2 linked regions of the Homo sapiens genome follow. The protein of the gene in region 1 purifies or fractionates together with the protein of each later gene. This does not show direct contact. Each region holds a gene or a part of one and is shown in the gene's direction. Other genes may lie near its edges. The genes, in order: SH3BP1 and NLRP4.

Region 1 (3,813 bases):
TACCAAGACGTGATCTCAGCTGGGAGGGGGTCCAGGTGGTGAGGGCATCCACATCAGAAGAATGACCAGGCTGGGGACAGTTCCCAGGTCAGTGAGGGTGGCCAGGCCTGGGAGGGTGTTCAGCTTAGCAGAGATGAAGGATATCTAGGAGGGGCCGGAAGTGAGGGAGGAGAGGCCCCACCAAGTGTTTCCAGTGGAGGTGAGGGCAGCGGGCGCCTGGACCCATGGGGTGCCGTGTCCACAGGAAGGCCTTGGAGATGAGCTGTGCCATCCAGAATCAGCTGGCCCGCATCCTGGCCGAGTTTGAGATGACCCTGGAGAGGGACGTCCTGCAGCCACTCAGCAGGCTGAGTGAGGTGAGCCTGTGCCCTGCTTTCAGCCCCCAGCTTCCCCAGCTTCTGGCTCCCTCCTCCCCCAGCACACTGACCCCCCCATGCCCATCCCCAGGAGGAGCTGCCAGCCATCCTCAAACACAAGAAAAGCCTCCAGAAGCTCGTGTCCGACTGGAACACACTCAAGAGCAGGTGGGAGCCCCAGCCGCTCAGGGGGCTCATATCTGGGTCAGCCCACAGAGATGGTCATAGAGCTTTGAGGCCCTGGCCACACCAGGAGGATGCTGTGGGGTCTGCTGAGTACAGTGTGTGTACTTGTGCACGCCTGGTCCCTAGGAGCACAGGTGGTTAGCGTATCTGTGAGGGTGTGCCCGCGTGTGTCACAGCTGGTGCTGGGGCAACCCTAAAGCCTGGGATCCTGTAAACAGTCCTGCGGCAGCCCTGTTCTCCCCTCTGTGGAGTGGCTGTGATCACCAAATCTGCCACCAGGGGGCAACCCAGAGCACTCATGGCCCAGCCTGGGCAGAGGCCCCGGCCAGTGGAGCTCTCAGATCTGCAGCTCTAAATCCTAGAATCCCATGTGGTCTGCTGTATGGAGGGGACACTTGGCTCTGGACATGCAACAGGGCAGGTGACCAGCTCACCTTGGGATCATCTCCAGGCTCAGTCAGGCAACCAAGAATTCAGGCAGCAGTCAAGGCCTAGGAGGCAGCCCGGGTAGTCACAGCCATACGACCATGGCCAACAAGGTGGAGACGCTGAAGGAGGAGGAGGAGGAGCTGAAGAGGAAAGTGGAGCAATGCAGGGTGAGGGCCATGGGGGTCCCCTGGATATGTAGGGGTGGCAGGGGTGGGTCCTGGCCCATCTCACAGGCAAGGAAGCTGAAGTTCAGAGAGGTGACATGACTTGCCTAAGGCCACGTGGCTAGGAGCCAGCAGAGCTCCGCCATTCCCTCGTAGCCTCTTCTGTCTGTACCCCATGCATAACTTGGGAAGGCAGAGACTTGGTCTGTTCCCTGAGTCTCCATGTGTTTGTTTGCTGAGCGAGCGAGTGAATGAATAAATGAAGAGTGAATGAAAGAATGACTGAATGGTGAATAACAGGTCACTGTGCAAGGCCAGGCGCGGTGGCTTACGCCTGTAATCCCAGCACTTGGGGAGGCCGAGGCAGGCGAATCATGAGGTCAGGAGTTCAAGACCAGCCTGGCCAACATGGTGAAACCCTGTCTCTACTAAAAATACAAAAACTTAGCTGGGCGTAGTGGCGGGCGCCTGTAATCCCAGCTACTCAGGAGGCTGAGGCAGGAGAATCGCTTGAGCCCAGGAGGCGGAGGTTGCAGTGAGCCAAGATTGCACCACTGCACTCCAGCCCGGGCAACAGTGTGAGACTCCGTCTCAAACGAAACAAAACAAAAAACAAGGCACTGTGCTAAGTCTATGGAGACACAGAGATGGGGACGAGAAGCCAGAAAAGTTTGAGGGAGTTCCCAGGGGCTGGCCCCAAGCACCAACCTTGGCAGAGAGAGGAGCCTGGCTGGGACCTTCCACCTGCAGTTGTGTGGCCTGGGGGAGGTCACCAACCCTTCCAAGCCTCCTCTTCCCCTCTAGACCCCACAGCCTCACCCAACGTAAGCTCTCCCCTCTCTGTCCCCAAGGACGAGTACTTGGCTGACCTGTACCACTTTGTTACCAAGGAGGACTCCTATGCCAACTACTTCATTCGTGTGAGTCCAAGACCGGGCCCCAGCCATCCAGAGTTCAGGGGCTGAATGCCAGAGCCAGGGGCCACTGGGGCTCTAAGATGGTGGAGGGGGCGTCTGCTCTCAAGGACCCTATAGAAGGCTCAGCTTCCCCCACTTCCGCTCAGGGTGTCCCTTCATCCCCACAGCTCCTGGAGATTCAGGCCGATTACCATCGCAGGTCACTGAGCTCGCTGGACACAGCCCTGGCTGAGCTGAGGGAGAACCACGGCCAAGCAGGTGGGGACATAGGCCCGGCGATACCACACCCCTGACCCTGCCCTGCTCGGGGCTTATTGAGAAGCTCGCACTTCATCCTGAAAGGTAGCAGGAAGCTGTGGATGGGTTCTGAGAGCTAGGCTCAATCTGTGATGGAGAGGCAGCTCTGGCTACTGTGTGGAGGGTGGAGTGAAGCGGGCAGGACTAGAGCCAGGCCTGTGAGGCAGAAGGAGGCAACGGTGGCCTGGACTAGGACAGAGGCAGTGGAGGCGGGCTGATTCGAGAGATGTGACGGATGATTTCAGATGTGTGCCTGGACAGTCAGTGGCAGGTGGTACCACCTTGAGGACATGAAGGGGGGGTGCCCCTGCCTGACTGCTCGGGGTGGGAAGGCCCTGGGCCGCTGATCTGTTTCATCCCTGCAGACCACTCCCCTTCGATGACAGCCACCCACTTCCCCAGGGTGTATGGGGTGTCGCTGGCAACCCACCTGCAAGAGCTGGGCCGGGAGATTGCCCTGCCCATCGAGGCCTGCGTCATGATGCTGCTTTCTGAGGGCATGAAGGAAGAGGTGGGGTCCCCTGGGGCAGGTGGGGAAGGAGCACTGGGGCCCTCATTCTGTCCCAAACCGCCCACTTGCTGCCCTTTCCGGGTGCCTGTAATTCCCTCATTCGAGCCCAGCTCCCTGGGAGAAGACATGACTGCCTCCTGCGGCATCCACACTACCTCCCCCGTGTCAATGCTCGCGTGGGCCAAGCGCTGTACTAGAAGCCTTTGCATTCCAGGCTCCATTTCACAATTTCACAAGAGGGAGACAGAGGTAGAGAGGTAACCATGCCCAGAGTCATTTGAGAAGGTGACTTCTCAAACCAGGGGCTCCACTGCCACACACTGGCTGGATCTGCTGTGAATACATTGCCCCCCTGTCCTGAAGATAGACCCTAGTGGTGGCAGATACCCCAAAACAGTTCTGCGCTGCTCAGCAATCCTGCTGTGCTGGGGCCTCCTTTCTCCCTTACACTTTTTTTTTTTTTTTTTTTTTTGAGATATGGAGTGTTGCTCTGTTACCCAGGCTGGAGTGCAGTGGCGTGATCTCGGCTCACTGCAGCCTCTGTCTCCTGGGTTCAAGCGATTCTCCTGCCTCAACTTCACAAGTAGCTGGGACTACAGGCATGCACCACCACGCCCAGCTAATTTTTGTATTTTTTAGTAGAGATGAGATTATGTTGGCCAGGCTAGTCCTGAACTCCTAACCTCAGGTGATCCACCTGCCTCAGCCTCCCAAAGTGCTGGGGTTGCAGGCATGAGCCACTGCGCCCGACCCTTTTTTTTTTTTTGAGACAGGATCTCGCTCTGTCACCCAGGCTGTAGTGCAGTGGTGCGATCCTGGCTCACTGCAACCTTCACCTCCCTGGTTCAAGCGATTGTGTCTCAGCCTCCCAAGTAGCTGGGATTACAGATGCCCACCACCATGCCCAGCTAATTTTTTTTATTTTAGTAGAAATGGGATTTCACCATGTTGGC
Region 2 (3,813 bases), on another chromosome or scaffold:
GTCTCTGTACCCCAGAGACCGTAAGCCAAGCATACGTATAACTGAGATGGTGCATCTCAGGTTGGCTGTCTCTGTACCCCAGAGACCGTAAGCCAAGCATGCATATAACTGAGACTGTGCATCTCAGGTTGGCTGTCTCTGTACCCCAGAGACTGGGTTGACAGGGATCAAGAACAGGGTTGGGAGGCAGTGAGCCTCTCAAGGACAGCAAATGTGGGCTTCCCGACTCTGACAGGATTGGCAAGAGGAATGAGTCCAGGAACTAGAAACCAACAGAATGTGACATTTTCCCTTTCCTGCAGGCTGGTAAATTGTCACCTCTCACCCATTGATTGTGAAGTCCTTGCTGGCCTTCTAACCAACAACAAGAAGCTGACGTATCTGAATGTATCCTGCAACCAGTTAGACACAGGCGTGCCCCTTTTGTGTGAAGCCCTGTGCAGCCCAGACACGGTCCTGGTATACCTGATGTGAGTGGATGTTGGGGGTGCCTACTGTGGAGGGCCATGGCGGCAGTTCAAACCTGGGCCTATTGATGACAGTCTGCTCATTGATGGAGGCCACATAGCGGAGGTTTAAAAGCTCACGCTTAAGAATCAGAAAAGACTTGAGTTCTAGTTCAGGATTTATCACGTATATACTGTCTTCTTAAGCAAAATATTTAACTTAGAAGCAGAGGAAAATCCTGTCTTAGAGGTCTTATGGCTATCAAGTGAGACTGTCTATACAGAACACGTACTGTGTTTCAAAGCTGTTAGGTTGGGTTAATGCACCTGCAACACACATGGTACTTCCCGTGTTGATAACGGTTATTTCGAGCATGTAGAATAGACTTGGTGGGTACTCAGGACAGTAGCGGGGAAAAATGTCTATGGGCCTCTTGACCCCAGTTAATACTATAATACATGTGATGTTCTTGCAGTAATAGGATGAGAAGAGGCTATTCAAGCCAGTTTTAGGGTACGTAAAACACAGAAGGAAGACAGATGAGTAAGTGTTAAAGGCCAATTGATTTACCTATTAATGGAATTCTAATACCTTTAGGTGATACTTATACAAAAGGGGAGAGGACAGGAGAATATATATGCATTTGTGTCTTTTTTTTTTTTTTTGAGTTTTGAGTTTTGCTCTTGTTGCCCAGGCTAGAGTGCAGTGGCATGATCTTGGCTTATCGCAACCTCTGCCTCCTGGGTTCAAGCAATTCCCCTGCCTCAGTCTCCCAAGTAGCTGAGATTACAGGCATGCGCCACCATGCCTGGCTAATTTTGTATTTTTAGTAGAGATGGGGTTTCTCCACGTTGGTCAGGCTGGTCTCGAGTGTGTCTATTTTTTAAATACACAAATATCACTGGAAGAAATAGTATTATAATATAGGCTGCCTGTGAGAAATAGAACTGAGAAGCTGGGAGATAGGGGAGGATGGAGATTTTTCCCTCTTTATACTTTTGGGCATTTTGAAATATGAACAACATGAAAGTAAGAGTATTCTGAAAATGTCAAGAAAATGAGAGGATTTATACCTCGAGCTAAAATAGAGGGACAGGGACAGGACTTAACCTCCCACCTAAAACAACCAAAAATAACCAACTAAATAAAACAACTGTTTAAGACTTCAGACATCAGGCAATGAAGGACAGTGGTGCCTGAGTGATAAGGGACAAACAGGTGAGTCCTAGAATTGTCCCAGGTAACTATCTGGAGAGAGATTTCAGGATGCAGTTCAGGAAGGGGAACCCAGATGGAAGTTGGTAGACTCTGTGAGTTGGTGAAACCCCGTCTCTACTAAAAATACAAAATACAAAAATTAGCTGGGTTTGGTGGTGCATACCTGTAGTCCCAGCTACTCTCGAGGGAAGCTGAGGCTGGAGAATCGCTTGAACCTGGGAGGCAGAGGTTGCAGTGAGCCGAGATCGCACCACCACACTTCAGCCTGGGTGAAAGAGCAAGACTGTCTCAAAAAAAAACAAAAAATAAACCAAAAAAAAAACAAAAAACAACAAAGTCCACAAATGCCTGGATATGCCAGAAAATTGAGATCCGTGAGAGAAGCAAGCTGGGTGAGGCCTCCGTGGAAATGCAGATCTTGTGTCTGTCAACAGGAAGCAGTTGCCCGTTCTGTCCTAGCCTGTTGGATTTCCATGTGGGAATGCGGCTCATTATTGCCAGATATCCCAGTTTTCAACAGAGGTTGAAATCTAGATTTTACATACAATTTTACTGATGGTTATATATTGCCAACTGATTTTGTTAAACATAAAAATGCCAGGAAATCTAAATATCCGTAGGCCATATGTGGTTCGTTCATCACTAGCTTGCACCGTCTGCTTTTTTGTTTTTCTCTACTCCACACTTTTTTTTCAAAGTCAACATGGATCCTTAAAAAAAAAAAATTCATAAACTGGCTGGGATTGGAGGCTCACACCTATATTCCCAACACTTTGGGACGTCAAGGCAGGTGAATTGTTTGAGCCCAGGAGTTCAAGACCAGCCTGGGCACCATGATGAAACCCTTTCTTGACAAAAAAATACAAAAATTAGCTTGGTGTGGTGGCACGCACCTGTAGTCTCAGCTACTCAGAAGACTGAGGTGCTGAGGTGGGAGGATCCCTTGAGCCAGGGAGGTAGAGGCTGCAGTGAGCTGTGATCATGCCACTGCACTCCAGCCTAGGTGACAGAGCCATACCCTGTCTCCAAAAAAAAAAAAGTTTTGAACCTACTGTGATTTTAAAGAATAATGAAATTGAAAAAGTTGGGGATTCTACACATGAGGTAATCAATACACTTTACCAGTCCCTGAGGGAGCGGTCTCAGAAGGTCCATGTCTTGTCCAAGGACATCATCAGATGAAGAATTAGAACCAAAATTAAAGCCCTGTTAGAGTATTAGCTATGCCATATTACACGATACTTTTTCCTTCTGCATTACCCTCTTATTTTCTAATTCTTCTATCATGCAACTAAGAAGAAATGAGAGGGCCGGACGCGGTGGCTCACGCCTTGTAATCCCAGCACTTTGGGAGGCCGAGGTGGGCAGATCACCTGAGGTCCGGAGTTCGAGACTAGCCTGGCTAACATGGTGAAACCCCGTCTCTACTAAAAATGCAAAAATTAGCGAGATGTGGTTGTGGGTGCCTGTAATCTCAGCTACTTGGGAGGCTAAGGCAAGAGAATCACTTGAACCTGGGAGGTGGAGGTTGCAGTGAGCCAAGATCGCGCCGTTGCATTCCAGCCCGGGCGACGACAGCAAAACTCCATCTCAAAAGAATAAATGAGAGGAGGTGTTTTCAGATAATCCAGAACTTCATCTCAGCTGGGGAGTTTGTAAGATTATAGAAATATTACCCTGAATGTGAAATTAAGCAAATCTCCCTGAGACACCACGTCCCTCTTCACTCTCCTTCTCGTGTTTTTGTCCCCATAGGTTGGCTTTCTGCCACCTCAGCGAGCAGTGCTGCGAATACATCTCTGAAATGCTTCTGCGTAACAAGAGCGTGCGCTATCTAGACCTCAGTGCCAATGTCCTGAAGGACGAAGGACTGAAAACTCTCTGCGAGGCCTTGAAACATCCGGACTGCTGCCTGGATTCACTGTGGTAGGCTTTTTGCTGTTTCTTTGAAGACCAAGCCGTCTTTTCAAGGGCATGCACTGCTGAGAATGGGGCATCTGGAATTGAGGAAGGCTGTAGTGTCTGTGCCTGGGCATGTGAAGGTTTAAAAAATACTTGCTTCAGATTCTTGTCGAGACGTTCATGTAAACAAATCAGCACCCTGACTTCTGTGGCATGGATTTAATATGTTGCAAAGAGTTCTCCAGT

The links.
Region 2: the proteins of SH3BP1 (region 1) and NLRP4 fractionate together in Homo sapiens (co-fractionation; one large-scale study listed by BioGRID). This does not show direct contact.

The regions. Positions count from the first base shown.
Region 1 is NC_000022.11:37,642,651-37,646,463, forward strand, and holds part of SH3BP1 (SH3 domain-binding protein 1), read left to right. Parts: exon of another isoform or gene 1-244; coding exon 245-356; intron 357-447; coding exon 448-524; intron 525-976; exon of another isoform or gene 977-993; coding exon 994-1,138; intron 1,139-1,986; coding exon 1,987-2,055; intron 2,056-2,219; coding exon 2,220-2,310; intron 2,311-2,714; coding exon 2,715-2,860; intron 2,861-3,813. UniProt on the Homo sapiens protein: GTPase activating protein (GAP) which specifically converts GTP-bound Rho-type GTPases including RAC1 and CDC42 in their inactive GDP-bound form.
Region 2 is NC_000019.10:55,867,407-55,871,219, forward strand, and holds part of NLRP4 (NACHT, LRR and PYD domains-containing protein 4), read left to right. Parts: intron 1-302; coding exon 303-470; intron 471-3,420; coding exon 3,421-3,591; intron 3,592-3,813.